Regions from separate parts of the Homo sapiens genome. Here all the other regions are linked to region 5. The links come from fine-mapping of genetic effects on gene expression. A gene starts in region 5. Each other region holds a variant in brackets. All regions are shown on one strand. Distances are from middle to middle.

Region 1 (4,000 bases), 23 kb after region 5:
CCTGGGGCCCTCACAGCTCTCCTGGATCCTCCTGTTCTCACAGGCTAGAGAACACGGGTTTCAGGCCAGGCACAGCGGCTCGCTTCTGTCATCCCAGCACTTTGGGATGCCGAGGCGGGTGGATCACCTGAGGTCAGGAGTTCGAGACCAGCCTGGCCTACGTGGCAAAACCCCATCTCTACTAAAAATACAAAAATTAGCCAGGTGTGGTGGCGGGCGCCTGTAATCCCAGCTACTTGGGAGGCTGAGGCAGGAGAACCGCTTGAACCCGGGAGGCGGAGGTTGTAATGAGCCGAGGTCATGCCACAGCAACAAGATCACTTCAGTCTGGGCAACAAGAGTGAAACTCCATCTCAGCATCAGCCAACCTGGGCTCGAGTCCTGGCCCCACCGCTTCCCAAGGCCGTGACCTCAGACAAGCTGCCAACCCTCTCGAGCCCTCAGTTTCTGGAACTACAGAACGGGGACATCCATAGGACGCCTCACTGAACCATGTGGGATCTCTGTGCTGATAAAGCACAGTGTGGGCGGGGATGGCGTGCCTGCTGCAGGATGCCCGTGACAACTGTGCTGATGCCACGTGGAGGCTCAGAATCCTCATGGGGGTGGCGTGGGACCGCACGGGAGCCGAGGCAGGGGATGGGTGTCAGCGTGGCCGGGTGGCCCTACCTCGCTGGAGTCCTCCTGCTGGTTGATGACCGTCAGGGCGTCCTCGGAGGCCTGCCGCTTCGCCTCGGCCAGGGCCCGCTCCATCTTGGCACGCTCCGTGGTGATGAGCTCGTGCGCTTTGCGCTCCGCGTCCGACACGGCTTTCTGCAGCTCCGACATGGCCTGCCGCTTCACCTCATTCACGGCCTCTTCTGCAAAGGACATGGGCAGGGCTGGCGGTCACATGGGCCATCCCAGATGGGTCTCTGGACTTCCTACGCGTGGCCACAACCTGGGGACAGGGGCTGTGTGCAGCTGAACACACGTACCATCTGTGCACACAAAGGCACATGTTGATGGGGCTGTAGGCAGCTGAACACACGTAGCATCTGTGCACACACAGACACACGTTGATGGCCCTCATGCCTGTGCAGACAAGTGCATGCAAATAAACACAGGCATCCCAGGCATGTGTGTGCAAAGCTGGGTCACGTGGTGTCACAAGTCAAAGCTTGCACTCTACCGCAGCGGCTCCCCAGGCACTGCACCCCTGCAGGGCAAGGGCGAGGCCCACCCCAGGGCCTGGTCAGCCAGGGGCGCACCCGGAATCTGCATTCCTAACGCGAGCCGGGGGAGCTGCTGCTGACCTGAAGCACTTGGATAACTCTGCCGTTCCGCCTTCACCTCTGGCCCCACCCAGACGCAGCCCAGGAAGCCCCCTCGTCCAGGGCTCTGTGCTGTCACCCCAGACCCTGCTGTTATCCTCACCGCACTTGCCATCCTTTAACCTGGCTGGCCTCTGAAGACCATGCTCCCCGACCCACACACAGCCACACACAGATCCTGATCTGTGCTAAGATGGGGTAGGCTCAGAGCAGCCTCCAGGGAGCACTGCCCACGCAGCTGGGGAGGCCATGTTTCAACTCCACCACTGAAAGAGACCCTGAGGCCAGCTGGAGACCCCGGTACCGCTGCCCAACCCTAACCCTAACCCTAACCCCAACCCTAACCCCTCTTGCTGCCCACATATCTGGCTCTGCCCCAGCCCCTCCCCCAAGGCTGATTCCCACGGCATGAGCAAATGTCCCCACAGCCTTGCCCAGCGCTCAGCTCCACGTCTGCCCCTGTTCTGACCCCATTCTGCCCGGACTCTGGCCCCGCGTGCCTGACGCGCCCAGGCTCCGAGTGTGTGCGCTTCTGCGTGCCCTCCTGGGTGTGCAGGTCCAGGACCCACTTTATTCTGCTGGGCGGCCACCGGTCCGTTTCCTGGTAGGCGCAGGTAGCAGCTGTCCTGCCCT[A/G]AGTGTGAACCTACTCTGACCTCTCCGTGAGCCACACAGCGGAATGCAGAAAGCCTTGTAGCCTGAGCCCCCAGAGAGAGACAGAAGCTCTTCAAAGCTGAGCCGGTGAGAGGCGCATCTGGGGCCCTGGCCTCCCACAGCTCTGCTGGCCAGGCCCCTGCACCCCCACTCACCAGCCTTCCTCCAGATGTCCTCAGGCACGTAGCCGGTGAGGGTCCTCGGCAGGAACTCGCGAGGCACGTCTGAAACAGGGGCCGGCGTCACACAGGATGGGCCACGCGGCTGCCCCTCCCACGCTGGGGCCCTCCCCACCCTGGCTGGGCCCTGAGTGCAGGGCGTGAGTGTGTGCGTCCCTGGGGGGAGGCCCAGGTGCCCTCGGACAAGGTCTGGCTCAGGCACCCAGGGCAGTGCCCGGGCACGGGGGGCATTGGAGCTGTGGACCTTGGACTCGGCTGGGAGCCGTGTGTGTCCTGGGCCTCTCCTGTGTCAGCATTCGTCGCTGAGGCGGAGAAGCAGAGACCCTCAGGGCCTCCCAGCTCCGAGCCTCTGGCCCACCAGACGCTCTGAGCTCCAGGCTTCCTGGCAGACCAGCCCGTGTTTTCCTACAAAGTGAAAAAGGTGCCTCTTTCTCAAGCGAAACTGTTCTGCCTGGTGTTTCGTTGCATTGCCTGCCTGACAGCTCCCAGGTGTCCGCCCCACCAGAGCACCCCGTGTCTGCTCCCTCCCCCCACACCCCACACGCACCTAGCTGAGGCCCTTCGGGACCGGCGGAGCTGCTGCGGGGCCGGGCCGCGGCGGGAGCGGGGCCCTTCTTTGTGTCCTCGGCGTCGCTGTAGCGCCGCGCCCAGTGGTTGAGCTCCTCGCGGTCGGCCTCCTGGCACCTGCGCAGCACCGTGAGCGAGCGCCGCGTCTTCTCCACCATGTCCATGATGCAGTTCAGGAGCTGGGGGCGGGCGGCGCAGCCTTCAGCACCTCAGAGGGACCGGGACGCACCAGACACTCCCCCAGCCCACTCGGCCAGAGCCCCGGACAGGATGGGTGCCCGACCAGCCCACCGCCCGTGAGAGTAAGGGGGTGAGGGAGGGCCCACCTCCATGGCTTGCAAAGATGGGTCCCTAGCCTGGGACTGCCGAGCGCCTGGGGGTACCAGACTCACATGGACACGTGCCTAGACGCACGCAGGAGTTTGGGATTCTCCTTTTTAACCCGCTCAGCGGGGCTCTGCCTCAGGGACCTGGCTTTCCGCCTGGGCTCCCCTTCCAAAAAGCATGAGGGCGAGGGGCGAGGCTGACAACAGTGCTGGGAGGGGTGCTGGCCCCATGCCTGGCGACCCCTCCTGGGACGTGCTGCAGGATGGGGTGGGTGGGTTCTGAGGAGCCCAGTTCCGGGCCGTCCCCGAACACGTCCTGCCTCAAAGAGGCCTCGGCACTGCTTTTGCCCACACTTCTTGCAAGACTCAGGATAGACTCTGGGAAGAGCCAGTGAGCAGAAAGTAAGTGGAGGGAAGCAAGGCCCGCCATGAGGGTTTTAGGAATCCTCCTCCCTGGGCCTCTCGAGATGCCTGGGCTGCGCTGACAGCTGGGAGGAGGGGGGCTCAGGTGAAGGACCCAGCCGCTGCGCAGGGACGGCGCAGGCCACACAGGAGGGCACTGAGCTCAGGGGCGCCCACACAGCCCTGCTGTCTCCAGCAGCCCCAGGCCCCATGGGGCAGAGCCATGGCCGTGTTTATGCATAGGCATACAGGTGTGGCTGTGTGGGGACATGGCTGTGTGGGTGTAGCTGTGTGTGGGCATGGCTGTGCGTGGGTGTGGCTGTGTACATGGGGGGGTTGTGTGCATGGGTATGGCTGTGTGTGTGGGTGTGGCTGTGTGTGTATGGCTGTGTGTGGGTGTGGCTGTGTGCGTGGGCGTGGCTGTGTGCGTGGGGGTGGCTGTGTGTGACTGCACGGGCGTGGCTGTGGCTGTGTGGGCGTGGCTTGTGTGGGCATGGCTGTGTGCATGGGTGTGGCTGTGTGTGGGCATGGCTGTGGGCGTGGCTGTGTGTGCATGGCTGTG
Region 2 (4,142 bases), 41 kb before region 5:
GGACAAAGGACAGACGGAACTGGAAGTCATCCCTCTGGGGCTCCCCTGAGACAAACGCTTATATGATTGCCCCGTTCCCTTACTGTTTACATAAAAATGCGGATTCACTGGGCCAGACTCAATCGTGTATTCAGTGGAAGGCTGACTGAACCAATGTACGCCATACACATACTGATCTTGTGTCTCCCTAAGATGTATAAAGGCAAACTGTATCCCCAGCCACCTCAGGCACCTGTTGTCAGGACCTCCTGAGGCTGTCACAGGTGCATCCTTAACCTTGGCAAAATAAACTGAGACTGGTCTCAGATATTTGGGGTTCACAAAGGCGTGAGACGGCAGGGTCCTGAGGTCTGAGGCGCCGTGGGCGAGGAGGAGGGTCCTGAAATCTGAGGCGCCGTGGGCGAGGAGGAGGGCCAAGCACACGCCAGGGTCAGGTCCTGGGCAGGTGGAATTGTGCAGTCCCCCTGCGTCTGCAGGTGCTGTCTGTCTGGCTTGGGCAGGGTTGGGGGAGGACCGAGGCCAGAGCCATCCTTCCTCCAGGCACTTGCAGGGCCAACCGGAGATTCTAGGCCTGGCCTGAGTCTGCGCAGGTGCTAGTGGGACCAGAGGCACTTCTTGGGAATGGATTCTGGAGGTGTCAGACACTTCCCTAACTTTTCACAGCCCGGAGGTGCCCAGTTCTGGGAAATGAAAATTGAGAAAAAGAACATGCAGTTATTCAAGCTCTTCTGGACCCAGCAGCAGCGGGCATTTTGTTGTTGCTGTTCTGAGACAGTCTCACTCTGTCACCCAGGCTGGAGTTCAGTGGCGCGATCTTGGCTCACTGCAACCTCTGCCTTCCGGGTTCAAGAGATTCTCCTGCCTCAGCCTCCTGAGTGAGTAGCTGCTGGGATTACAGGCACGCGCCACCACGCCTGGCTAATTTTTGTATTTTTAGTAGAGACGGAGTTTCACCATCTTGACCAGGCTGGTCTTGAACTCCTGACCTCGTGATCCACCTGCCTTGGCCTCCCAAGGTGCTGGGATTACAGGTGTGAGCCACCACGCCCAACCATTTTTGTATTTTTGGTAGAGACAAGGGTTCCCCAAGTTGGCCAGGCTGGTCTCAAACTTCTGACCTCAGGTGATCCACCTGCCTTGGCCTCCCAAAGTGCTGGGATTATAGGCGTGAGCCACCGCGCTTGGCCTCGAGCAGTTTTGATGTGTCCCCTGCCCAGGTCAACCCCGGACCCCAACCAATTGGCCTCAGTGTGGGGACCACCTCGGTCCAGGTGGGCAGCTACACAGACGCTCCCCAGGAATCATGGGAACTTGGGAGATGGCACCCTCTTGACTCGGCCTCTCAGCTCTGAAGGCTGCCATTGGAGAAATGAGAACTTGGTGGGGAGGTCCCGGGTATGGGGGATGCAGCTGCCAAGTGGCTGAGGGCCTCCGAGGGCCAGCAGTGTTAGAAAGGGCAGGCGGTCCTCCCAGGAGGGCCCACCCTGAGCTTCTCAACTCATCACCCTCTCCTGCAGCTTCAGCCTCTCAAGAAGCCTTTCCCAGGGAGAAGCCAGTCCCTACTGCGCTGCTGGGCTCAGTTCAGTGCGGTGCTGAGCGGAGCCCGCACCCCTCCATCGCCTGGGTGTGTGTGGACCTCACAGTGCAGCCTTGCTTAGCGGAAGCCTTGCTTGATGGGAGGGCACTTTTCCTGGCAACAGAAAGGGAGACTTATGCCGCTAAGAGGAGCCTTCTTGGCTGAAATGAGTGCAGTTTGGTTCTGTGTCCCCATCCAGGCCACTTCTGTGCCACGTCAGACGCCGCATGGCCCTGAGGGCACTTTCCGGGGACAGACTTTGGATTCTGGGTGCTGCTCAGGGTACTAAGGACAGTCTCCAGCCCTAGGCGGCAGCAGGGATGCCGCATGAGTGTCCCTGCCCCCTTGGCCACCAGAGCAGGAGTGGGTTTGGGTGAGGAAGCTGCTCCCAAACTCCAGGGGCAGCAGAGGCAGCCGCAGGGTGTGT[T/G]TGAGTCTGGATGGGGGATCTGCATTTCTCAAAGGCCGCTCAGCTGTCCCAGAAGCAGGGGTCCAGGTGGCCACACTCCCTCTCCTCTGTGCCAGAGACGCCACTGAGCCCCTCTCCTGGGGCTGGCCTGGAGTTGGCGGGGACAGAGGGCAGGGAAGGGGTAAGGAGGGCCCCCAGGCTTCACACGCGTGTCTGTGCATCTCCCCCATGGCTCTGCTCACGGTGGCATCTGGGCCCCTCAGACCCCAGTGGCTCAGCTCGCCAGGTCTGAGTTGGCACTTTTCCCCCTGCAGAGAGCACAGGTGTGGCGGTGGGGGCAGTTCCCCCAGTGCCCAGGAGATGGCAGTGGCAGCCAGGCTGTGTGCGCCCACCTCCCCTGCCCTGTGCCCACTGTCTCCATGGCAGGTGTGGCCTGCGCCCGTGGAGCCACTGCAGCCTGGGTCGTAGAGAAGGACCCAGCAGCACGGAGTGGGATTGGGTGTGGAAGGCAGAAGGCCAGGGCTCCTCCACGGCTGGTGGCCCTGGGCTCCTGGGGCCCCGAGACTCAGGGGTCCTGAGACAGGGACCTCCCTGCTCCACCACTGAGTCCAGAGGCGGGGACGCCAGCTGCCCAGGTCCCTTTGAAGGAAGGGCCCTGAATATCTTCCTATGAAACTTGCCAGGCACCCCCGCCCCCCGCCCCCCAACTAACGGAGGTGGCCCTGCCCTGCCCAGTCCTAAATAACCCTGCAGGGTGGACTGTCCCTGGGCAGGGACAAGGCCATCTGCCCTCCATGGTCCTCACTGCTGGTAGGTGCTCCCGATGGCCGGTGCTCTCCTGTTACATCCGCCGGCCCACGCTGTGGCTCCCTGGCTGTTCAGAGCCACCACCTTCCTTCCCACGGCACGGCGGGCACCCAGCGGCTCCCACGCTGCAGCCGGGTCTGGCCCTGGAAAGAGGCTTCAGCTGGGCCTTTTCGCCCGCACAGCAGGAGCCCAGGCTGAAGTCTGCAGCTGCCGAGGGGCCTTCTTCCCGAATCCTGCGCGGCAGATCCAGGGGCTGTGGGCAGCCACGCCCAGCCCGTGTAAACAGGTGAGCGACGGCCCAGGGGCCTCGAGGCTGGGCTCGGCCATCTCCACTGTGCTCGGTGGGCTCTGGGCACCCAGGAGCGACACCGCAGACCTGTGTGTGGCTCGTTTTTGCCGACTAGAGCGAGGGCCGCACGTGTCCCATCTGAAGGAGCTGTGAAGACCTGCCCTGCTGGGACCCACATCAGCTGTGCTGGGAAACAGGCCTTTGCGGCCACTGCACACGCGGGATGGCTGGGCCGTCCACATGCCACCCTATGGGACCCCCAAGCAGGGGACAGAAAAGCTGCTCCTGAGAGGCCCTGACTGCTGCGGCCCCCAGGGCTGGACAAGACGACGACGCATCCTTTGTGGCCTGAACACAGACTTCAGTGAAACTTTGGAGGCACGTCTGTGCTTGTGTTTCTGGCCGATGCTGGCGTGATGAGGCCGTTTCTCTACTGGAGGTGAACAAGGCCTGGTCTTGTCAGGCTGCACGGAGGTGCTGCTCTGGGTGGGTGCCTATGAGTGAGATCAGGTCTGATGCGAAGGTCTCTGGGGCTGGCCCAGCATGAAGGAGGCACAAATGAGAACCTCGCAGGTGGGCCCTGGGGCCGCCGCCACTCAACAGTGCCCACCAGCCCACCCGGGACCCACCGGGCAGTGCCGTTCCTGCCTCGGTGCCTTCAGAGCCCGGGAGTTTGGAGGTCATCACAGGGCCCCTGCAAGGAGAAGCTGCCCGTGTGGGAGTCGAGGACCAGGGGACCCCGGACCCTCTCACGCGCCCTGCTGTCCCTCAGTGACTTGTGGGGGGCAGGAGAGGGGCCTTGGAGCTCCCCAGTCTCAGCTCAGCCAGGCAGAGGCCCGGGTGGCCGGCTGTGGACCTGCGGCTGCCCTGGTGCAGCGTTGTTCTGGTCCCCGAGTCGCTTGGCTCCTGCCTCCCGAATCCCGGACGCCGCCGCGTGTGCTCTGAGGCACGAGGGCCTCACCACTGACGGAGGCGGGGAAGCACGCCTGCCTCTGCCCTGTGCTGGCCACGGTTCATCCTGGGCCCCGGGTGGGTGGCTGCAGCCCCGGCAAAGAGACGGCCGC
Region 3 (4,000 bases), 42 kb after region 5:
CAGTCAGCCCCATTGGCCATGTTTTGCTGCTGGGGAAGGAGAGCTCAGAGAGGCTCTGCTCCTGCCTAAGGCCCCGCAGCTTGGAGCGGAGGGTCTGTGGGATGCAGCGACCCGGCGGCTCTGCCCTCCTGCGCCCTCTTCTCCCTAAGGAGGCAAGACCAACACAACAGAGGCAATGCTGAGGGTGCGGAGGCCGGGGAGGAGAGCTGAGCGCCCCCAGGGCAGCAGTGTTGGGCCAGCTGAGGATGCTGCGGTGAAGACCTCTGGGGAGGCCTGCGGTTTTTGTTATTTTACTTACAGAGACAGACCATAGACCATTTTAAGCAGCCATGAAAACGGCCGTGGGGCAGCGTCGCAGGCCCGTCCTCTCGATCTGTAAGCAAAATAAGAAGAACACGCTGTCAGGAGGGGCGTGGGCAGGAGACTCTGCCCTCAGGGGCGCCCGCGGCCACCTTTTCCTACTTCTCAGAGTGATTTTTGGTGGGGGCGTGGGCAGGAGACTGCCCTCAGGGGCACCCGGGCCGCCTTTTCTTGCTTCTCAGAGTGATTTTTGATTTTCGGAGGGGCCTGGGCAGGAGACTCTGCCCTCAGGGACGCCCGGGCCGCCGTTTCCTGCTTCTCAGAGTGATTTTCTGACGGGGCTCTGTCACCACCTGGGGCCAGGCCACTCCCCTCTCCGAGCCTCAGTTTCCTTCTCTGAGAGTGGGTGATCCCTAAGGGCCGTTCTGGCAGCACTGTTCCGGAGTTTACAAGAACCGCGGCTTCTCTATGAGCAGGGGCGGGGCCCCTTGTTTTCATCGTCCTCTTCCCAGAAGGCCCCTGTGACCCCATGAGCACCATCCTCAGGGACCTGGGCCGAAGCCGCGTGTCCTAAAAGCGACCTGAGACTCGGCTTGGAGTCTCTGAAACAAAGCCCTGGGTCGGCACTGGAGGAGGAAGCACCAAACAGGAAGAAAGATTCGGCTGGGCTCAGTGGCTCACGCCTGTAATCCCAGCACTTTGGGAGGCTGAGGCGGGAGGATTGCTTGAGCCCAGGAGTTCAAGACCAGCCTGGGCGACGTAGGGAGACCCAAACTCTACTATATAAAAAAAGAAAGAAAGATTGAATTTGTTCGAGCTGAAGTCAGTGGCGCAGGCCACAGGAAGACAGGCTCTAGTAAAGACGGGTAGTGAGTTCTCTGTCATGGGGGTAATCAAGGGCAGGATAAAGCCTTAGCCCTTTAAGCGTCCTCCCAGCTTTAGAGGAGCTTGGTCTGGGTCCCTGCTCCTTATATGCCTTCCCCCTCCCCACCCCCCACCCCACAGCAGCACCGCAGCTTCAACTCCAAGATGAATTTGCGCCCAGGGCTGTCACTGGGCAAGAGAAACTTCGGCCCTCAAGTCTCCGTTCAGACTCAGTCTCCCATCAGCTTGGCTCAGAGGCCAGTCCCCGGGGAGGAGCCTCCCGGCAGGGCTCTGCAACTGAGCTGTGGCCCCTGAAGGGCACCCACCACCCACCAGCCAGGGGCAGGGGTGCGGCCAACCACCTGGCTTTCACGGAATTGTGTGGATTAGGGGATAAATCTGAGGCTACCTCAGGGGTGGCCAGAGCCTCAGACTGATGCTGCTGACAGCCCAGTGGGACTGAAGCATCGGCTTAGAAAAGAAAAAGCACCTGCTTATCTCTTTCATAACCTTCACGCTCCTTAAACCAGCTGGGACCTCACCCCAAAAACATGACCCCAAGGCGGGCTGGGAGTGGAGGGAGCAGGAAGGACCCCAGCCCCAGGCATGCCGGCTGC[C/G]CTCACATCCGTTCACAGGTCTCCAGAAGCAGAGCCCGACGCTCTGCTGATCCCAACCCACCTCCAGCCAGGAGCATCAGACCGGCACCTTCCAAGCAGAGGCTGCTGGTCCCCAGGGAAGAGCAGGTGGGGGAGACGCACCCTTGAGGGTCTGGGGAACCAGGCTCAGCCCACGGTGTTTGTCCCTGACAGTGGGGCCTGAGGTTGTCTGTGGAGCGGGTGTTTTAGGCACTGCGCCCATGGCCGGGTCTCCCGTGGTCCGTCCTGAGCGTTTCCTCCCCCGGGGCTGGGGTATACTGCAAATTTAACACAGCAGCGGTCTCCCTCTACCTATGTGGGCTCGGTGTGGTCGCAAGCTGCCTGGTAGAGAGACGGCCCGTGGTTTGTACCAGACCGGAGGGCTCTTCCGAAGAGAGGGAAGGGTGATCCCAGCCCGGCCACATCGCCGTGTGACAAGGACATGTGAGAAAAAGCCCAGCCAGCCTCTCACTAGAAACCGTGGCCAGCTCCGCAGAGCCAGGACCTGCACGCTGGGCCCGCCGTCCCCCAGGACCTGCAAAATCGTGAGTGCGGCGTCCCGACTCTCTGAGGCAGGGCCGGCCCCGCGGGTGCAGGGAGTAGCCGTTAGGCTGTTTGGCTCCTACTGAGTGCCGGGCACATTTCCAGCTGTACCTGCCTCTGGGCGGCACACCTGGGGGCACCCCATTGCTGGGCCACCCCATTCCCCAACCAAGTCGGGAGGCTGACTCGGAGCCAACATCCTACAAACAGGGCCGCAAATCTGCTGCCTGACCGCACAGCCAGTGCTCTCTCCAGATGGAGGGGAGATGATGGCCAAAGCCCTCGGCGGAGCAGGCCCCCAGCCTCAGCGGCAGAGCCAGGGAGGGAGCCAGGCCTGGCCTATAGCCACCCGGTGCTCTGAGGACAGTCGTGACGTAAAGGGACTGAGGAAGCAGCTCTTTCTGGCCCGTCAGGGACCCGGGGCAAGCAGGACGGAAGTCTCAGGCTCCCCGCCCAGAGAGGGGCTTCGTTTGAGTTTCAGAGCCTGGGGAGGGTCCCCCAGGTACGGGGCTTTCTGGCCGCTGCATGTGGAGGTGGTACATGGAGTCTCCCCCCTGCAGACACTGAGATGCACTCCTGAGCCCCCAGCCTTGAGGGACAGGGACGCTGCCACCCCGCCGGCCCAGCAACTGGGCCAAAGAGCACCAATGTCTGTCCTCAAAGCCAAGGCTCTGCGGGTGACTGTGATGAGAACTGGCTGTTCCCTGCCCCACAGCCTCCCAGGGCCCACCATCGGCGGCTCTGTGCGCCAAGCACGGCCAACCCCTTGCCAGGGCCAGCAAGACAAGGCCTGACAGCTTCTTGAGGTCCCACCCTTCCGGCCTCCTGTGCCAAGGCCCCCACCCTGGCCCCCGTGCTCAGCCGGGCTGTGGAGCTCCTGAGATCTGAGCCCCTCCAAGGCCAGAGCTGCCTCTGTGGTCCCTCCACGGGGCCTGTACGCAGGTGACCTGCTGTATGACCCTGCGGAAGCCCCTGACCCCATCCGAGTTCCACGTTCTCTCTGGATGAGCCTGGCATTCCTAGGCCTGCCGGACGAGGCAGGAAGCCTGAGGCACAGCGGCCGGCTTTGACCCATGGCCGGCCCTGGTGAAAGGCCTGTGTGGACTCACCTGGCCCCACCACAGCCCTGGGAGGACCTGCATTGCAGAAGAGGAAGCCCAGGCCCCCCGGAGGGCAAGGACATGACCCGGAGCTACCCAGTGGGAAGCAGGGAAGCTGGGATTTGAACCGGCCAAGCCTGGGCTCTGGGCCACACGAGCTCCTCACACTCAGGGCTCACAGAAGGTGCCCGCTGGCTCCGGGCAGGAAGCTCAGAATTTCAAACAACACAAGGGCCTCCCCTGAAACACCTGGCCCTCGGCTGCCAGGTGGGGGCTACTTACGTGTGTGTGGCGTGAAGGAGGGGGGGCGTGTGGCCCCCTGGGATGCGGCAGGCGGTGGGGGCGGCATGCTGGGGGGTGTGGACCGGGGCTGCGTCTTCACCTCCGCTGGGGAGTCCGGCATCGCTGAGGCCTTAGCTTTCCTGTCCACTGGGGCTGCGACCAACGGAGAAAGAAAGAGTCGGTGAAGCAGGCTAAGTGCAAAGGCCAGGGCCCGCAGCCCCACGGTTCCCAGCGAAGGCCCCACTGAGTGTCCGCCCAGCGCTGGGGCAGTCTGCC
Region 4 (4,164 bases), 36 kb before region 5:
GGACCATAGATCACTGTGCCTGGCTAATTTTAATTATTATTTTTTGAGAGAGAGTCTCGCGCTGTCACCTAGGCTGGAGTGCAATGGCATGATCTCAGCTCACTGCAACCTCCGCCTCCCTGGTTCAAGCGATTCTCCTGCCTCAGCCTCCTGAGTAGCTGGGAGTACAGGCGCCCGCCACCACGCCTGGCTAATTTTTATATTTTTAGTAGAGACGGGGTTTCACCATGTTGGTCAGGCTGGTCTCGAACTCCTGACCTCATGATCTGCCTGCCTCGGCCTCCCAAAGTGCTGGGATTACAGGTGTGAGCCACTGTGCCCGGCCTTAATTTTTTATTTTCTGTACCAGTAAGGTCTTGCTGTGTTGACCAGGCTGGTCTCAAACTCCTGGGGCTCAAGAGATCCTCCTACCTCGGCCTCCCAAAGTGCTGGGATCACAGGTGTGAGTGACCATGCCTGGCCCCGTCGTCTTTTTTTCTTTAGACGGAGTCTTGCTCTGTCACCCAGGCTGGAGTGCAGTGGTGCGATCTCAGCTCACTGCAACCTCCGCCTCCTGGGTTCAAGCAATTCTCCCGCCTCACCTTCTCGAGTAGCTGGGATTACAGGCACCGACCAACACATCCAGCTAATTTTTTGTATTTTGGTAGAGATGGGATTTCACCATGTAGGCCAGGCTGGTCTCAAACTCCTGACCTCAGGTGATCCACTCACCTCAGCCTCCCAAAGTGCTGGGATTACAGGCATGAACCATGGCGACCGGCCACCCGTCTTTAATTTAGAGAGGCTCCTGGCAAAGTGACATGTGTGTCTGTGTCTGAGAAGCAGCCCACGGTGAATCAGGCTGTGTCATGGGTGTGTGACCTCAGGGACAGTGGTTCTCAAAGGCATGGCCGACAGCTGGGCCTCCTTGTGACCCCCTCTGGGAAGCTCTGCCTGCTGCCTGGGTTTGCTTTGAAATAACCCTGCCTTCTCCAGCTGTGAGGGCGGGGCTGGGTGGCTGTGGTGGGTGGGACTGTGTCTCTGCTCTGGCCTGGCTGGAGGGGCTCCAGCAAACGCAACAGGCGGGGAGCAGTGGCCCTGAGGACCCCCCTGTGGATGCCAATCACGCCCAGTGGACGCGAGGGGGCACCGCCATCCAGGCTTTAACCTCGGGTGGTCCCTGGAGCGACCAGCCTGTGGGGGGTGTGGCGGGCACCGGTGTGGCCAGCAGCTTGTTCTGTGTAACTGGGGCCTGCAATCTGCTCCCCGTGGTCCCCCTGGGACGGCGCTTCCAGCTGGGGGGGCTGTTGGCTCCTCAGTGACTTCTGCGGGCACAGGGGGCTCCCAGACAGCCCCTCCAGCTCCACAAGGCCCCAAGCTCCAGGCCCCCCATGGTTTCACGGGTCTCACCCCCATGGGTGATCACGAGTCCCCCGGGGGCGTCTGTCTCTGTATCTCGGCACCCCCACAACATATGACCATGAACTGGGGCTTAAAACAATGAAACTGCAGATGCCCCTCACTTTTCCAGAGGCCAGAGGCTGAAACCAAGGGTCTCAGGGCTGTGCACCCCTGGAGGAACTGGGGCTCCTTCCTGCCTCTTCCAGCTCCAGTGGCCCCAGGTGAGCC[G/C]AGGCTGGTGGCGCTCTGTCCAGTCCCCGTCTCGTCCCGTGGCCTTCACCATGTCTGTGTCTCCTCCCTCTGGACTCAGGGCATTTGGCCTTGGACCCAGCGCCACCCGTGCCTTAATCACAAGGCACAGGCCCTACTTCCCTTCAGGCCAAGCTGGGAGGTGTGGGTGGACCTGGGCCTGGGGACACTGCTGTCCACTCCAGGCTCCATGCTGCCTTCCCGCAGTCACCATCCTGGGCTTCTGAGCTGGACGCTCGGTGGAGGAGAGGTGCTGCCGAGGAAGTGCCCAAGGGATCCCTGAGGGGCTGCAGCCCAGGAGCCTCACCGCAGGCTCAGCCCCGTGGGAAGGCGGCTGCCCCGTCCAGAGGGTGCAGGAGCCTCAGGGCACCTTGGCGGTGGTGCTGCCACCCTCGGTCCTGTACTGCTCTCTGCTGCCTCCCACCGGCCCTACTCAAACCCAGGCCCATCGGGGAGCATAGAAAGCCTGGGCAGGGAGCAACCGCTGTGCTCAGGCCTGGTTCTGCCTCTGCACGCCACTCCCCTGATGCTCCTGGGTCTTCCCAGGACCAACTCGATAGGGCAGGAATGCTGGAGACCACTAGGCATGCACGTGCCCCAGGACCCCCAGGCCAGGAGCAGGAATTGGGGACCTGCTCATCCTGCTGGGGTGAGGGGGGGAAGCCTCCAGGTAGCCCTAGCCCAGGGAGATGGGTTCGGACAAAAAAAAAGGAAGCCAGGGCGGGGTCTCCAGCCAAGTGTTGGGGCCTCTGTGTCGCCCCTAAGGAGCTGCCAGCAGGTGAGTCTGGTACTGGCGACCATGACCCTCAAGACTCCTGAGGGTAAGGGGAGGGCTTCCCTGAAAACTGGCAGGTGATGGCGCAGACTCCGGCATCCTCGGTGGGGTGAGGACAAGGCCCAGAGAGCAGAGGGTGGAGCTGGGGCTGGTGGCTTTCTGCCATTCCTCCTGCTAGCTGACCTGTGTCCTTGTACCTCCTACTTGCCCCAGGGCCTGGACCCCTCCCCTCTGGCCTCAGCCATCCCCAAATGCAGCTCAGAGTAGGGGATACATCACTGGGGGCCAGGTGGATGGTGGCCCAGAAGGGGCAGAAGTGGGGAGACCACCAGGGTGGGCAGCAGCAGGCACCCTGGGAGGAGGGCAGGCCACCAAGCACGTGTGGGTATGAATAGCAACAGCAGATGCAGGCAAGGGGAGGCGGCGGGCAGGGTGCAGAGGGCTCTGTCCCTGTGGAGCCTGCATTTGGGGGAGTCCGGCTGGCACTGCCTCAGCAGCCAGGAGGCCCTGCACCGACTCACCTGAGGGGGAACCTCTCCCCTGGGTCCCGTCCCAGGTGGAAGATCAGGGGCAGCTTCGTGTGGTCTTCCAGATTGTGAGTTGTGACCCCTGAAACGTTCTGCCCAGGGCAGAAATCAATGCCCTGCAATGAGAAGAGGGAAGGTGTGTCCTGGAGCCCCTGACCTGCGGCCGTGAGGGGCCTCGTCTGCCCGTGTCCTGGAGCCCCTGACTGCGGCCGTGAGGGGCCTTGTCTGCCTGTGTCCTGGAGCCCCTAACTGGGGGCCGTGGGGGGGTCTCGTCTGCCTGTGCCTAGCAGCGTCCCTGGTACTCAGCATGGTGCAGGGCGCTGGCTAAACGCTGAAGGACTAGCGGGCCCATAAGCATCCTGTGGAGGAGGTGAAGCCACCCGCTCTGGGCCCGAGATGCGTAGCTGGCATGCCTCACGTACCCTGTTTTCATGTACCCCTCTTCTTTGCGAGGCAGGTGAGTGTATTTAAAACACCTTAGCCAGCCTCAGATCTGGACTGCCACTAATTTCATGGAGGAAAGCCCCTTTTAACAGCCTACTCTCTGCTGGGGAAGGGAGGGGAGGGAAAGGGACGGGAAGGGAGGCCCTGCCCTGGGAGAAGGGAGAGCCACAACGCTCAGAATCCCTACAGAAACCCTAAGACAGGGAGGAGCAGGACCAACATGTGAAAGGCAAGAGAAAACACAGAAAACAAAAACAGACCCAGGGAGCTGACACAGATTCACACACTCAAGAAGGGCAAGGATTTTACAGTAACCACAATTCTCTTTCTGCTGCCCCTGGGCCTCCTGATTCGGGAAAGGCGAGGTATGCCTCTAACATTCCCAGAGCGGGTGCTGCAGGCCAAGGGGCTCGTCCGAGGACTGTGCCCAGGACGGCCCTCGCAGGCGGCAATGCCGGGGACCGATGCCCAGGACGGCCCTCGCAGGCGGCAATGCCGGGGACCGATGCCCAGGACGGCCCTCGCAGGCGGCAATGCCGGGGACCGATGCCCAGGACGGCCCTCGCAGGCGGCAATGCCGGGGACCGATGCCCAGGACGGCCCTCGCAGGCGGCAATGCCGGGGACCGATGCCCAGGACGGCCCTCGCAGGCGGCAATGCCGGGGACCGATGCCCAGGACGGCCCTCGCAGGCGGCAATGCCCGGGGAACGATGCCCAGGACGGCCCTCGCAGGCGGCAATGCCCGGGGACCGATGCCCAGGACGGCCCTCGCAGGCGGCAATGCCGGGGAC
Region 5 (4,000 bases):
GAACTTCAAAAGTGAAAGGATGAAATTCTGAAGCAAAGTATCTTTAGGAGGGAGATGCCACTCAGTGCAGAGAAAGGCCCGGCTACTGCTGTCAGGACACGGACCCCTGGGCGCTGGAGAGCGTGCTCTGGAAAGCAGTCACTGCACACAAATAAGACATATGAGATGGAAAAGCAGCTGCCCAGGACTGTCGGCTGTCACCCCTGGGTGGGGAAATTATGGGTGGTGTCTGTTATCTTTTCAAGTATATCTTTATGTTAAAAAACCATTAATTTAATAAAATTGTTAAGTGAGATATTTTACATTATTTTTCTTTCACCAAGTCTTCTAAATCTGTGTATTTTACACTACCAGCACCTTCCAATTCCGACAGCCACGACTGCCCAGCCCTTGGGTGTGGCCCGTGGCCCCCACTGGTCAGCACAGGTGGGTCTGAAGGCACCTGTCAGGGTCTCTGCTGGTCGGAGCCAGCACACAGGGGCTGAGCGACACCGACGGCCCAAAACTGTCTGGTACTCGGTGTCGTCCCAGTCCTCACACACAACGTGAGCACGGCGGGACAGGTGTAACCCCCCAGGTGTGGCAGCTGAGGTTCAAGAATGGAAGTGACCCCCAAGCTTGGAGACAGTAGGGTTTCAACCCAGGTGTGTCTGGGGTCCTGCACGGTGACCCATGCCCCAGGCAGGCTCATTCCTGAGTCTCCAGGTGGCTCCCACAAGGAGTTAGGGAAGGAGGCCTCCAGGCTGGCTGTGACCCCTGACCCCGCACTTGCCCACCAGGAGACATTCCAGCCTTTCAGTTCTTCAGACCTTAGGGACACCTGACCTTCGCTCAGCATTCTCCAGAGGACAGAGACAGCCGTCAGGTAAGACTGGAGCCCAGCGGGGGGACCCGGCGGCCCGAGGTGGCGGGAGTGATTCCTAGGGCGACGCAGCTCTCAGGCAGGGCGGCAGGAGCAGCCTCTTCCTCCCTTTGGGGAGGCCACGCTGCGCGCCCACCTTTCCCAAGAGTAGAGGGCGGGAAAGGTCAGACGGGGGAGGCAGGGCCCGGTAGCACGCCGGCCACCCACCTGCCAGGGAGGACGCTGTCCCGGTCATGCAGCACAGTGGCAGCGCGTGTGGTGATCGGTGACCGCCGAGACCCCACGCCTGGACCCCGCGGCCACTCCCCGAGGGGCCTCCCCCTCCCCGCACGGGGATACCCCCCGTCCCCTCCCCCTCCTCCTCCCCGCGCGGGGCCTCCCCCCTTCCCCAAGGGGCCTCCCCTCACCTCTCCCCCCACCCCGCCCGCCCTTCCCCCACCTCGCTCCTCCCTCCATCCGCCCCTCCCCTCCCCGCCCCACCCCGGCCCTGCCCCGTCCCACCGCCCGCACTCACGTCGTCCATGAGCAGGAGCAGGATGTTGGGGGGCTGCGGGGCGCCCGAGGCCCCCATCCCCGCGGCGCTGAGCACCAGCAACAGCTGCCACCACCTCGTCGCCGCGACAACCGCCGCCATGGCAACCACGGGAGCCGCGGAGCCCCGGCCAGCGAGCCGACCTAGCGAGCGTCCGCCGGCCCTTCCGGCTGGGCTGCGGGGCGGGGCCTGGACGGCCACGTGACTCGCGGGGCGGGGCCAGAGTCCGCGGAGGGACGGGAGGCGGGGCCTGGACTGCCTCGTGACCAGTGGGGCGGGGCCTGAGCCAGCTGTGTGCGGATGGGGCGGGGCTTTGGAGGCCGCGTGACCAGCGGCGGGTCACGTGACGCGGTGCCTGGCGCCGAGCCTCCCAAGATGGCGGTGTGCATCGCGGTGATTGCCAAGGAGGTGCGTACGCGCGGCGTGGGGCGTCCGGGCTCGCACCATCCTCGGCTCTCCGCTTTCTTTCTACTTCTTCCCTGGGCTTAGAAGGCACCTTAGGAAATGGGACCTGGAGGAGGCCTTCGCCGAGCTCCAGCGGTCAGGGGCTTCGCGGTGGACGAGCCGCCAGGCAGACCCTGACTGAGACCCCAGTTCCGCGCTCGCCCGTCCCGCTGCTGAACGCACCCCTCGGCGCAGCAGGTCTCCTCCCCGCCAGGACCCACCAGAAACCTAGGTGGTCCCGGGCACTACCTCCGTCCTCCGTCCTCAGCAGGTTCTGCCCGTTCTCCCGTCCAGCGCTGGTTCCCCGCGGACGGCGGCCCCGGCCCTCCTGCCAGTCTCCCCGGAGCCGAGTTAAAAACAAATCGGATCCTGTCACGCCTCTGCCTGAGACCTCTGCAGTGGCTTCTCGTTGCCTTAGGATGCTGTCTGAATAACCTGCTCTGGGATCCTTTCCCCCCATAACCCTTGGCACTCTCCGCTCCAACCAAACAATTCTGCAGCTCCCTGGACATGCTCTGCCCTCTCACCTGTGGGCCTTTGCACGCGGAACACCTCTCCCCAGCTCCCATCCTCTTTACTGGCCCACATACATTTCAACTGGAAAGCATTTTCTGAAGGCTAAGACTGAGCTGGGTGGCTGCCCACACGCTCCTGCTGCACGGAGCCTTCATTTCCTAGCCAGGGTCTCCCGAGACCAGACTCGAGACCGCTCCCTGCTGGGCGGTGGCTGCTGCTAAGCTGCTCATGGGCTTCCCTCTTGGCCAAGATGATCATTTGCTTGTTTGTGGGTTTATTGACTAGGTATCACTCCCCACGAGGGTAGCGAGGACTCTTGTTCACTGTATTTGTGCAGGACCCAGTGCTGAACACACACAGGGTAAATGGTGGTGTGTGAAAGACCGAGAAAGAAGCTGTTAATTCTGGGCTTCCAATGGTCAGAAATGCAGAGATGAAGGGAATTTGAGCTGAGTCTTGAAGGGTTTAGTAAAAGGGTCACTGTCAAGGTGAAGAAAAGCCAGTATTGAGGGTGCTGTATTTGGGTGAGCCATGCAGAGTTAGAGGTGGGCTGAGGCAGAGTGGCCTCCAGGAGAAGGTGAGAGGCGTGCCCAGGTGCCAGGCTTGATCGGCAGGCTGTGCTCAGGCCCATTTTTCTGATTCATTTTTTCTTTTCCGCCCACCCTACTGCTGCTGCTTTGCAAACAACACATAAATCTCCTTAGGTTAGCTGGGATCCCCTGAAGGCAGTGCCCACTGCGGCATAGAGAATGAAGCGGTGGGCCTTAGAGCATGGGAATGCGTTCCCCGGGTGGCTGCAGGTCACGGCTCTGCAGCATAGTTCAGAGCTGGTGTGCGCTGGGTGGAGTCTTGTCCTTTCAGTCGCCGTCATCCTTTCTTGCAGAATTACCCCCTCTACATTCGCAGCACCCCTACGGAGAACGAGCTGAAGTTCCACTACATGGTGCACACATCTCTGGACGTGGTGGATGAGAAGATCTCCGCAATGGGGAAGGCCCTGGTCGACCAGAGGGAGCTGTACCTGGGCCTGCTCTACCCCACGGAGGACTACAAGGTGTATCTTTCAGGGCAGGGTGTGTGTCAGGGAGGACCTACAGTTGCAAGATGTACTTTAGGATCAGATAACTTGAAACCTTTTAGAAGAAAAAGAGGTGAGAGTTTTTAGCCAGCCAGGGAATTAGGGTAGCTTGAGGTGAATGAAGGCCTGTAACTCTTCTCTTTCATTGGAAGAGCCATTTGGGAAAAGCAAGGCTAGAATTCCCCGTAGAATGTTTTGGTTTGCACGTGTCCGTTGTCTGGTTTGCAGAGGAAGTGGGACACTTCTGCTTTGTACCTGCAAGGATTTCTTTCTGTGCTTTTCAGGGGGAGCCACCACCTTTGAGCAGGGGATAATAGTTTCATTTATTTCATTAGGCCTTGCCTCTTATGTCACTAGACACTCGTCTAGTCCCTTGGGACAAATCACTTGAGGCCATGGAATTCAAAGACCTTCCCAAAAGTCATCATGTAGCCTGTCCATGGTGACATTTGCTAGTAGCCACTATTTTACAAAATAATGTGGCCTCTAGAGAGGGGATCCGCCTTGTTCACGAAGCCTCTGGTTTTGCAGTTAACTTTCCGGGCCAGGCATTGATTCATGAAGAGGG
Region 6 (4,137 bases), 21 kb before region 5:
TCGCTGGGACCCTTGCCCCTGCTGGCTGGTGGTTGTGGGTGCTGGCGTCGAGGTGGGCCCCCCCGGGCTCCCCATGGGGAATGACGGCCAACACCACCCTCCCCCCACCCAGCACCCTGCCTCCTGGGAGCTGCCTGTAGCCCTCCACACATGGGTCTGTTGGGGGCCTCGACTCGTGGGTCTGACTCCAGTGGGCGGGAGATGGAGCTGTCCGGAGGGCCTGCACGAGAGCCAGGCTCACCCAGGGGAGCTATCTGGTGGGACGTGGCGCGAGGGAGCCTATGCTTCTGTTTTGGCTTTCAGCTGTGCTGGTTTCTATCACTTGAAACTCTGAAGCCCCCAATCCCCGCAGCACACTGGGCTGTAGGCGCCCCCCGACATGGTCTGGGACGAGGCTGTAGGGCTCTCCCCACCACGTGGTCTGGGAAGAGGCTGCAGGGCCCCCCCCCGCGTGGTCTGGGAAGAGGCTGCAGGGCCCCCCCGCGTGGTCTGGGAAGAGGCTGCAGGGCCCCCCTCAGCGTGGTCTGGGAAGAGGCTGTAGGGCCCCCCCCGTGTGGTCTGGGAAGAGGCTGCAGGGCCCCCCTCAGCGTGGTCTGGGAAGAGGCTGTAGGGCTCTCCCCACCGCGTGGTCTGGGAAGAGGCTGCAGGGCCCCCCTCAGCGTGGTCTGGGAAGAGGCTGTAGGGCCCCCCCCGTGTGGTCTGGGAAGAGGCTGCAGGGCCCCCCCCCGCGTGGTCTGGGAAGAGGCGGGTTCAGGTTTGTTGGCGCTGGGGATGGGTCAGGCATTCATCAGTGCCGAGCGGGGGAAAGGCTGAAGCTCCATCCCAGGAACCACTTGACAGGGCTGTGGTGGGGGCAGGAGTCCATCTTCATGGAGGCAGCCCGGCCCCTGGGTGACCAGGTCCAGGCCACACTCACAGGGCTGCTCGGGGTCTGGGGTGCCGGCCCCCACCTCAGCAGGGACACCCTGCTCCACCGGCCCTGCTGTTTCCATGCGGCCTCCAAAGCCTCCGGCCTCCGGGGTCACCCTTCGGGAGGCGTCAGCCTCTTCCAAGACAAACCCTCTCCCCTGTGTCACCTCCTCCCCACCCCCAAGTTCAAGGTCACTCCTGCTTCCAGGTTAGTCCTGGGCCAGAAGGGCCTTGCTCGAGGCTCGGTGACATCTGCTCCTCCCGCTGGACCCAGAGGGACCCTTCATGCTCTGCCCACCACAGACCCCGTGGGCACAGCCGGTCCAGGCACTCTTCGCTGACACGCTGGCTGTGGGGAAACCGTGAGAAGTGACAGCGAGCACTCACCTTGTTCGGGGGCGGAAATGAGGGCAGCGCCGTTGTCCGACGTGAAGAAGACGAAGGTGTTGTCCGCGACGTGCAGGTCTTGGAGGAGCTCCAGTATCTTCCCAATGCTGTCATCAATCTCCCGGACGGCGTCTCCATACCTGCAGGATGGTGACAAAAGGCATCTCCATACCTGGAGGATGGTGACAAATGGATCAGGCAGCCAACGGCATACTGTGATTCACGGAGTTCATTAAATCATAACTTCACAGACCACAGTGAAACTGGCCGGCCTCTTCCCAGAAGAGGAATGGCCTCAGTTCAAGTTCATGTGGCTTATGAAGGACAGAGCCAGCACCCCCACCACAGCCCTCCTCTGCTGATCCCAGGCCAGTGGACGGCTTCAAAGGGGTGGGGTTGCTCTGGCCTTTCCATAATTGGCCTAAATGCCACGGTACTGAGTGTCCCATCTCTGGAGTCAAGCACAGCTGGGGCCTCCAGCGAGGTCTATGCTCCATGGAGCCAGGACTCACCGCCCTCGCTGACTGGTGCCCAAGAAGGGTTTGGAGGCATAGACGGGTGCGTGCGTGGCGTCGACAGCCCAGTAGAGGAAAAAGGGGTGGTGCCGTGCCTGTCTCTTAATGAAGTCCAGGGCTTCCTATGGAGAGAGCCACACCGTCGTCCTCCAGCCTCAGGCCGACCTCCTCATGCCTCCCACGGTCCCCGTCCCCACACGTCCCACGGGGCGAGGTTGGTGCGGTCCCCGTCCCCACGCGTCCCACGGGGCAAGGTTGGTGCGGTCCCCGTCCCCACGCGTCCCACGGGGCGAGGATGGTGCGGTCCCCGTCCCCACGCGTCCCACGGGGCGAGGGTGATGAGGTCCCTGAACCCATGCCTCCCACGGGGTGAGGTTGATGCATTCCTGTCCCCACGCCTCCCACAGGATGAGGTTGGTGCGGTCCCCGTCCCCATGCGTCCCACAGGGCGAGGATGGTGCGGTCCCCATCACCTGCAGGTAGATCTGGGTGAGGTTGGCTTCCCCCGTCTTCAGATTAATAGGAAATTCTTCATAATATCTGAAAAGAACACAGATCCAGACAGACTTCAGAATTTAGGCCAAGAAAGTCCCGTTCTCCCTGATTTCACCAGCAAAGCCATGGGCTTCATTTAAAAGAAGGCT[A/G]GGGCTGGGCGTCATGGCTCATGCCTGTAATCCCAGCATTTTGGGAGGCTGAGGAAGGTGGATCATGAGGTCAGGAATTTGAGACCAGCCTGGGCAACATGGTGAAACTCTGTCTCTACTAAAAATACAAAAATTAGCTGGGCGTGGTGGCGCACGCCTGTAATCCCAGCTACTTGAGAGGCTGAGGCAGGAGAATTGCTTGAACCCAGGAGGCGGAGGTTGCAGTGAGCCGAGATCGCGCCACTGCAATCCACCCTGGGTGACAGAGCAAGATCCTGTCTCAAGAAAAAAAAAAAAAAGGAAGCCTGGAAATGAAATGTCCACTCAGGGAACAACCAAGCTGGACGCATCCCTCGCTCCCCCAGGGCACGGTCTTGCATCTGATGACCTGGCTGAGGCCGGTGCTGCAATAACCTGCCACATGGGAAGATGGGGGAATGGGGCTGAGGGCACGACACCAAGGTGAAGGCAGTGAGGCGGCTGTGGTCACTCGGCTGGGGCTGGGGAGCCGCCGCTCAGGCCATGGGGCTCGTTCTGAAGCAGCTACAGTGCTGGTTGTCCCAGCCTGTGACTAATGCCAACCACAGAACTGCACACTTCAAATGGGGGCTGCGTGGTGCGACTCCCACACCTCCACGGGGCTCTATCTAGAAAGAGGCAGCAAGCTGGTGCTGCTTCTGGTCACCGTCATGTAATGAATGAGCACTTCCGCCAAGAAGAGTCAAGTTAAGCAAAATAAAATTCACAAAAGATGAGGGTCCCGGACCCGGCACTGCCGTGTCAAGAGGTGCTGCCCCCACGCCCGGGCACCAGGACGGCTCTGTCTGGACAGCGGCTTTTGCTCCTGGTGTGGCTCCCAGTGGGGGTTTCATCCCACCTCCTGTCCTGCCCATGTCCCTGGATGTCTGGAGCACAGCCGGCCTCCCCACCCGTAGACCACATGGGCAGTACCCTGACAGCTAGGGCAGACCGTGTGGGCTCGCTCTGCTGGGGGCCTTCCTCTCTCAGGACAGCTACAGGGATCTACGACCCTGAAAAGGTGGGAAACCCCAGGCAGGAGTCTCATAGGCTCTGGGGCAAAACTTGGTGGGACAGAAGCCACCAAACCAAAGCCCTCGGTGCCCGGGGACCCAGGGACAGACCAGCCCTCATGAGTGGCGACTTGAGCCCACCAGTGCTAGAGGCGGGGGGCAGGCACGCCGGGCACAGCAGTTCAGGACGTGGGAGGGGAAGGGGTGGGGCTCCATTACCTGCCAACCATCTCCCAGTCCCTGTACACAGGGATGTTGGGCCTGGCCTTGTTGTCATAAGGTCCAAAGTGGCAGTTGGGGGATCCAAACCACTCATCAAATCCGTGCTTCAGGGGGTGGAACTGGGGCCTGTGACCCAGATGCCTGGAAACAGGAACCCAGGACACTTCAGGGACCCCACGTGGGGACACTCGGAAGTTCTGAGCAGCAACAGATACCACCTTCACAAAATTCTTGGTAAGACGAGCACCCTCCAGCACTGAGTATGGGCTATGCCTGGGCACGGCAGGGACAAAAGACCAAGGCCTCACCCGAGGAGGGTGCTGGCACTGCCCGCCTACCCTGCAGAGCGTCTGGGCACAACCGAGGGCGGCAGGCATGGCGGCGGCCGGGGTTCCCTGCACGGTGAAGGGTGGTGCATCGTGAGGAGCC

Evidence for each region. PIP is the estimated chance that this variant, and not a neighbour inherited with it, causes the effect.
Region 1: its variant is fine-mapped to the expression of GALNS in whole blood (INTERVAL, PIP above 0.99).
Region 2: its variant is fine-mapped to the expression of GALNS in whole blood (TOPMed, PIP above 0.99).
Region 3: its variant is fine-mapped to the expression of GALNS in monocytes after Pam3CSK4 (Quach 2016, PIP 0.95).
Region 4: its variant is fine-mapped to the expression of GALNS in whole blood (TOPMed, PIP above 0.99).
Region 6: its variant is fine-mapped to the expression of GALNS in whole blood (INTERVAL, PIP above 0.99).

Annotation. Positions count from the first base shown.
Region 1 is chr16:88,878,601-88,882,600 of GRCh38, forward strand. CBFA2T3 (CBFA2/RUNX1 partner transcriptional co-repressor 3) reads right to left here. Exons shown (of 12, transcript NM_005187.6): 9 at 2,691-2,889; 10 at 2,120-2,188; 11 at 670-860. Among named protein-coding and RNA genes, the nearest start is that of PABPN1L, 14 kb to the left of the region's middle. The variant A/G (reference allele first, on the strand shown) is at 1,947.
Region 2 is chr16:88,813,846-88,817,987 of GRCh38, forward strand. GALNS (galactosamine (N-acetyl)-6-sulfatase) reads right to left here. Exons shown (of 14, transcript NM_000512.5): 14 at 1-680. The coding sequence ends at 594. Among named protein-coding and RNA genes, the nearest start is that of APRT, 4.0 kb to the left of the region's middle. RefSeq lists a silencer at 2,312-2,421 and enhancers at 2,344-2,845, 2,846-3,345, 3,940-4,142. The variant T/G (reference allele first, on the strand shown) is at 2,004.
Region 3 is chr16:88,897,780-88,901,779 of GRCh38, forward strand. It overlaps CBFA2T3 (CBFA2/RUNX1 partner transcriptional co-repressor 3), which reads right to left. Exons shown (of 12, transcript NM_005187.6): 2 at 3,725-3,877; 3 at 299-373. Among named protein-coding and RNA genes, the nearest start is that of PABPN1L, 33 kb to the left of the region's middle. The variant C/G (reference allele first, on the strand shown) is at 1,782.
Region 4 is chr16:88,819,667-88,823,830 of GRCh38, forward strand. It overlaps GALNS (galactosamine (N-acetyl)-6-sulfatase), which reads right to left. Exons shown (of 14, transcript NM_000512.5): 12 at 2,923-3,044. Among named protein-coding and RNA genes, the nearest start is that of APRT, 9.8 kb to the left of the region's middle. The variant G/C (reference allele first, on the strand shown) is at 1,609.
Region 5 is chr16:88,855,382-88,859,381 of GRCh38, forward strand. GALNS (galactosamine (N-acetyl)-6-sulfatase) reads right to left here and starts at 1,566. Exons shown (of 14, transcript NM_000512.5): 1 at 1,377-1,566. The coding sequence starts at 1,496. TRAPPC2L (trafficking protein particle complex subunit 2L) reads left to right here and starts at 1,746. Exons shown (of 5, transcript NM_001318525.2): 1 at 1,746-1,802; 2 at 3,238-3,410. The coding sequence starts at 1,770. It overlaps LOC107983950 (a long non-coding RNA gene), which reads right to left and starts at 1,199. Exons shown (of 2, transcript XR_933884.3): 1 at 1,070-1,199; 2 at 1-920. RefSeq lists a silencer at 1,299-1,698.
Region 6 is chr16:88,833,917-88,838,053 of GRCh38, forward strand. GALNS (galactosamine (N-acetyl)-6-sulfatase) reads right to left here. Exons shown (of 14, transcript NM_000512.5): 5 at 3,706-3,849; 6 at 2,285-2,351; 7 at 1,809-1,933; 8 at 1,297-1,436. Among named protein-coding and RNA genes, the nearest start is that of GALNS, 21 kb to the right of the region's middle. The variant A/G (reference allele first, on the strand shown) is at 2,456.